Homo sapiens: one gene and its partner. The protein of the gene in region 1 purifies or fractionates together with the protein of each later gene. This does not show direct contact. Each region holds a gene or a part of one and is shown in the gene's direction. Other genes may lie near its edges.

The links. The genes of interacting proteins can lie anywhere in the genome.
Region 2: the proteins of TREM1 (region 1) and SEL1L3 purify together in Homo sapiens (affinity purification with mass spectrometry; one large-scale study listed by BioGRID and IntAct). This does not show direct contact.

The regions. Positions count from the first base shown.
Region 1 is NC_000006.12:41,273,105-41,276,682, reverse strand, and holds the end of TREM1 (triggering receptor expressed on myeloid cells 1 isoform 1 precursor), read left to right. Parts: intron 1-452; coding exon 453-558; 3' UTR 559-3,078; downstream 3,079-3,578.
Region 2 is NC_000004.12:25,751,489-25,754,988, reverse strand, and holds part of SEL1L3 (protein sel-1 homolog 3), read left to right. Parts: intron 1-3,500.

The DNA.
Region 1 (3,578 bases):
AACCTTAGAATCATTTCGCCAAAATCTATAAAATTCATGATGAGATTTTCACTACGGGTGGATTCTTCTCGGTTTATAGGTGAGGAAACCGAGCTAAAGAGGTGAGATGACCATCCCAGTAGGCAGGGTACGGTACTGAGAATAGAGAGCGGGTTTCCTGGCCAGAGTCCTCTCTCCCTACCACATCACAGGGAGGAGGATGGGCTGATCAGCCCGACTGTCTCCCTCCAGTGCCTCTCCTGGACAGGGACCTATACTCTCCACTGAATTGTTTCTAATCAGTAGTTTTTGGCAATGAGACAGACTGAAAAGCACAGGGTCAGGCAGTGCGGGAAAGGTGGAGCAAGGATCTAAGCAGAGGAGAGTGGGACATGAAGGCATTTTCTAGAGGGAACATGTGCGTGTGGGAGAGACTTTGCCAGCAGTAGCGTTCAGCCTCTTGTCTCCCGCAGGGTTCCGGTGTTCAACATTGTCATTCTCCTGGCTGGTGGATTCCTGAGTAAGAGCCTGGTCTTCTCTGTCCTGTTTGCTGTCACGCTGAGGTCATTTGTACCCTAGGCCCACGAACCCACGAGAATGTCCTCTGACTTCCAGCCACATCCATCTGGCAGTTGTGCCAAGGGAGGAGGGAGGAGGTAAAAGGCAGGGAGTTAATAACATGAATTAAATCTGTAATCACCGGCTATTTCTAAAGTCAGCGTCTCACCTTCCTGCCCACTGCCCTCGTTCCTCTAATAATCTTGGGTGGGCATTTGTGCCTCAGAAAAGAAGTTACAGCCCCAAACATGCTTGGTCCTTCATTCCACCAGCCACTTGGGGTTGGCATGAAATACAGACAGCTCAATGCTTTTCACCGTAATTCTCTTGTGGGGGCTGTGACATGCAGAAGGCACACCTGATACTTCTCCTGCTCAGTTTTGCCCTGGACCATACAATTTTGGCCTGACCTGGACAGAGCTCCCACTACAGAAGCATCCTGCTCGCCCCATGCTGGGACTTCCTCTTTCTAGCATCAGACACTTGGGTTTCATGCTTATGTGTGGTTCTTTCCAACACTCCCAGAAAAGGGTGTTGAAGATTGTGGAACCTGGAGAAATAAGACATCGTGGTGAGAAAGTGCATCCTTCTCAGAGAAAAGAGTTAAACTGAGTATCTTCTTCTGGGGAAATACTGGCAGGCCGAGATGGGATCCATAGGAGAGCAACAACAGACCATGTCAGACATCCTGTGTGCATTTATCGCTGGATCCTGAAAATAGCCCCGTGAAGGCAGAAATGTATGTGACTAGAACGAGGCCACATGAATAAGCCACTGCCCACTGGCAGGAGTGAAAACTGAAGCGCTCCTTACCTGAAGGACCCCAAAACCATATAGAATAGAATAACCAGGAGTTCCGCCTGTGTCTAAATGCCTCTTTTCCTGTATCACACAAGGGTCAGGGATGGTGGAGTAAAAGCTCTCCCCCTGGGAGGCTTCTGGAGGCTGTCCCCATGTGCTTGCCTAGTTCCCCACTCTGCCCTCCTCCTCTTCTCTCAGTCTGCTCCTGGAACACCTGCCTCAGTTTCCATGCTCTCTCCAGTGCCCTCCCCGGTGAAGCAGGTAGGTGTTCAGGCCACCACAGAGACAATCTCTGTGGGAGATTGTCTTGCAATCTCCCACAGATTTCAATCAGGATTTTGTTATTTCCTACTTTGAGCTTTAAAGGGAAATGGGCCTCATGGGTGGGGAAAGGATGGTGGGTCCTTCCAGCCCAATTTAGTGATGCCCAGGGCAGATATTATCCTCAGTTCCCAAGAGCAATCATACTTTTCCACACATACCGTGTGTCTCATGTTAGGTAAATGTATTTTTACAATGAGCACCACTTCTGTGGAAAAAGTTCCCTGCACGGGGAGGTCCAGCTTCCAGACTGCTCCATCGCATAAGGACTTCCCCATTCCCCTAAATGCTGCTCTGTCAGAACCTGCCCAGGTAATGGTAATGACCCTAGAGAGATGATTTCTGAACCGCAATTTTGAGCCCATTAGAAGGTGTGTGGTGGGCATTTATTTCATCCTGATGCTCTGGTGAGAATCTTTGCAGACGCACTAGATCCAGAAGCTGTTAATCTTGGTGCATTTATTTTCCTACCTAAAAGAACCAAGCAGCTCAGAGGCAGTGACTGTACAGGATGCAGTGTTTATAATAATGCTGAGCTTGCTGGTCTGGAACCCCACACTTTAGCAATCCCAGCATTGTTCCTGTTTATGAAGTTGACAAAGTGACCAGGGCAAGGGGGTATTATCATTAAATACACTCTAGGAGAGGCAGAACACATGAGGGCAATGTTTTTCAGAGGTCTTTAGGCCACCGCATCAGATTCTCCTGGAGCATAAAGCAAATGCTTTATGAGTCCAGGGCCCCTGCAGACCTACTGTATACTAGTATACAGCTCCCTCTTAGTGGATCTCAAGCTTGTTTCCAAAAAGTCATTACACTCCTTACCAAAGCCCATGACACATTCATACAGATTCATCCAGACATAACCCACTGCATGGTCCAGTGCATGCTTGTGTGCTTAACTTATTATAGATCAAGTGTTATTTAAGTCCAACATATTAAACGTGACTGAAATATTATATGCACTAAATCGGAAGACAAATGGCCGTGCTGGATACTCTCCCATTTGCACTTACAGGCCACGCCATGCTCCATCCTCCCCATCCTGCCTGGGAACCTGACCAATGTGGCTAAACCAGCAGGCTCCCTGGCTGCCAGCTTCTGGCTGGTTGAGCCAATGGGAAGCATGAGAGGAGAGCCGAGGGTGGGGAGACAGTCAGATCAGGGTTTCTGTCCTCAGGGCTCCCTCCCTGGCAGGTGGTGGCAGGAGTGGCTGCATTCCCCTCTGAAGGCTCCTTCAAGCCTCTCAGCAAACAGCTCCCATCTCCAAGTCCAGCCACCTGTTCCATCCTCTCCTCTGTAGGCCCAGCAGTGGGAATGACCCACCACTATTGCCAGCCTCAGCATACTGAAGCACCCCTTACTGGATTCCCTAAATTCTATGCACATGTTTATTAAATGCTCCTCAATTACCCAGTTTCAATGAGCCAGCGGTGTCTTGCTGTTATCTTGACTGATACAATAGTGTTGTGTGGCTAACGACACAGGTCTTGGAGGAAAACCATGTATGGGTTTGAATCTAGCTCTGCATCCTTGCAGGGTGTCTGATCCTGGGTGACTCAGTTAACCTTCTGGGCTTCAATATTCCTCCTTGCCTTAATGGGCATGATAGTGCCTAACCATGCCAGTGATGATTTTGGATGCTAACAACAGAATCCAACTCTGGCTATCTAAAACAGCAAGGGAATTCTAGGGGGATATCAGTAACTCAGAGTTGATGAGAGGCTGGGGGATTGGGTTTAGAAAATGGGCAGAAGCCAAGAGAGAATGGACAGCAGAGGCCACATGAGACAGTCTGGACATGTTGCCATCAATGCCACTGCCCTGGATACTGGAGGCCACCATGCTATTCCTAGACTCTGAATCCTTAAATTGCCTCTGAGTAAGTAATCTGCAACTGGCCCTGCATTTGAGCCTCA
Region 2 (3,500 bases), on another chromosome or scaffold:
CCATTGCCTCTCACATAGGAAATATTTTGAAACATATTTTTTAGTACCTTGAAATGAAATTCATGATAATTAACCCATCTACACACATTTTTAAAAATCAATATAGGGCCCTAACAGCAATATAAAGGGGAAATAAAAAGAAACTAATTGTAATAAAATAATATTGATTTCAATAAGTACATTCTAGCCCAGTGCTTATAAATTTTAATGTGCATATGAATCATCCAGCATTCTTATTAAATGCAGATTCTAGTTCAGTAGATTTTGGTTCAGTAGGTAAGCCCTGAGATTTGGCATTTCTAGCAAGCTCCTAGATGATGCCCACACTGCTGTTTAGTAAGAGCATACTTTGAGTAGTAAGGGCCGAAAAGTATAAAAAAAAAGAAAAAGAAAAAAACTCCACACATTTCCAAAATGTGCCCCGACAGTGGTACCTGCCAGCCCTGTTAGAACTAATGTTAAGAGTTGAAATATGGGACGGGTATGGTGGTTCACTCCTGTAATCCCAGCTACTTGGGAAGCCAAGGCATGAGAATCGCTTGAACCCCGGAGACGGAGGTTGCAGTGAGCTGAAATTGCACCACCACGCTCCAGCCTGGGCAACAGAGTGAGACCCTGTGTCAAAAAAAAAAAAAAAGTTGTCAATAATTTTTATATTTATTTATTTATTTATTTTATATATTTTTGAGATTGACTTTCGCTCTTGTTGCCCAGGCTGGAGTGCAATGGTGCAATCTCAGCTCGCCACAACCTCCACCTCCTGGGTTCAAGTGATTCTTCTGCCTCAGCCTCCCGAGTAGCTGGGAATACAGGCATGCGCCACCACGCCTGGCTAATTTTGTGTTTTTAGTAGAGACAGGGTTTCTCTGTGTTGGTCAGGCTGGTCTCGAACTCCTGACCTCAGGTGATCCACCCACCTCAGCCTCCCAAAGTGCTGGGATTACAGGTGTGAGCCACTGCAACTGACCTTATTTATTTATTTATTTATTTATTTATTTATTTATGTTGAGACGGAGTCTCACTGTCGCCCAGGCTGGAGTACAGTGGTACAATCTCAGCTCACTGCAACCTCCATCTCTCGGATTCAAGTGATTCTCCTGCCTCAGCCTCCTGAGTAGCTGGAATTACAGGTGCACGCCACCACCCCCAGCTGATTTTTGTACTTTTAGTAGAGATGGGCTTTCGCCATGTTGGCCAGGCTGGTCTTGAACTCCTGACCTCAAGGGATCTACCTGCCTTGGACTCCCAAAGTGCTGGGACTACAGGCATAAGCCACTGTGCCTGGCCTATCAATAATTTTTAAGTAGGAAGTTACTCCAGCAGTACAGTGAAGCTGATGGGATGATGGGGCAGGGAAATCGAGGCATGGAGGAGGTGAGGAGAAGCTGCTGCAAAGGCGATGCTGCTCAGAGACCAAGTTTCTACCATTTGGTGTCTCCCCAGTGAGCTGGTGCACAAGGTCCTGAGACCTGCCCCACAGCTGGGGGAAGACAGGGATGGGTGCATGTAGCAGCCATGGCGTTGTGAAACAAACTTAATAATGAACTCTGGGTGCTGACTGACTGTAAAAAAGAGGAAATGTATTTGAGAGTTAGGAGCCTCCCGTCAGCAGCTTTGGGTGAGGATTGTTGCTATAAGTTAGAGAGCTTTGTCATTTTGTGATTTGCATTTTTTCCAGTCAGTTGTATTTAAAAATTAATGATTTATAGTCAAGACTTGCAGTTGAGCTGTCCATCCATTTTGCGTTCAGCTCCAACTACCTTCATTTTCCTCCTGAGTTTATATGCTCTGTGATATATAGTTGACACATCATGGCATTTGCCACATTAAATTGTCCTGCATTCAGAAGGCTAGCCGCGCAGGACGGTGGTTAACAGCATCGGTGTGGGAGGCACACTGCTAAGATTCTGGCCCTGCCAGTAGCTAGCTATGTGACCTTGGGCAAAGGAAGGAGCCTATCTGTGCCTCAGTTCCCTCTTCCGTAAATAGCAGAAATAGTAGTACATCCACTGCCTGTTGTAGTTGAGATAACCAAATGAGGTAACACAATGTAAAGTGTTTAAAACTCCACAAATGGGCTGGGCGCAGTGGCTCACGCCTAGCACTTTGGGAGGCCAAGGCAGGCAGATCACCTAAGATCAGGAGTTTTAGACCAATCTGACCAACATGGTGAAACCCCATCTCTACTAAAAATACAAAAATTAGCGGGGCATGGTGGTGCATGCCTGTAATTCCAGCTGCTTGGGAGGCTGAGGCAGGAGAATCACCTGAAGCTGGGAGGCAGAGGCTGCAGAGAGCCCAGATTGCTCCATTGCACTCCTGCCTGGGCAACAAGAGTGAAACTCTGTCTCAAAAACAAAACAAAACCACAAATGTTAGCTGGTAGTTCTCAAGGAGTATGTCCTCTGGGGCACTGGACCTGTAATTAAAGCATGCTGACACTAGGTAATACCCACACATAAATAGCTTGATTTACCTCAGAAACAGACATAATGACCAAAGCCTAGTATGTTTTTCTTTGCTGTTAGGACTCTTTCTAAAACATTCAACTTTTTTTTTTTTTTTTTTTTCGGAGATGGAGTCTCACCCTATTGCCCAGGCTGGAGTGCAGTGGCGCTATCTCGGCTCACTGCAACCACCGCCTCCGGGGTTCATGCCATTCTCCTGCCTCAGCCTCCTGAGTAGCTGGGACTACAGGCACCTGCCACCACACCAAGCTAATTTTTGTATTTTTAGTAGAGACTGGGTTTCACCATGTTGGCTGTGCTGGTCTTGAACTCCTGACCTCAAGTGATCCGCCCGACTCAGCCTCCCAAAGTATTGGGATTACAGGCGTTAGCCACCGCACCTTGCCCATTCAACTATTTTTTTTTTTTTTTTGAGATGGAGTCTTACTCTGTCGCCCAAGCTGGAGTGCAGTAGCATGATCTCGGCTCACTGCAACCTCCGCCTCCCGGGTTCAAGCGATTCTCCTGCCTCAGCCTCCTGAGTAGCTGAGATTACAGATGCACGCCACCACACCCAGCTAAATTTTGTATTTTTAGTAGAGACAGGGTTTCACCATGTTGGTTAGGCTGGTCTCCAATTCATGTCCTCGTGATCTGCCTGCCTTGGCCTCCCAAAGTGCTGGGATTACAGGCGTGAGCCACCGTGCCCAGCCCATTCAACTATTTTTTAAAGCATTTCAACAAAAACATTGACTGATCAATAAAAAATACCAAGATAGCTCAATTGATACTTTCAATAGATTAGTCAATGTCTTGATCTTCATCATATATACTTATATATATAAAGAATATATACTTATATATAAAGAACATATATTTATTTATATATATAAAGAATACATATAAATATATGTATTCTTTCCTTCAAGGGAACTTGTGTTTGACTCCTGGCTCGCATTCCACCAGGCAGCTCAGTCTTTCTTGCTGCTTATACCTCCCACGGTGGTGGAAAGGTCCCTGGGTCTGGGTGGTCCTAGGGTCACTCAGATAGTC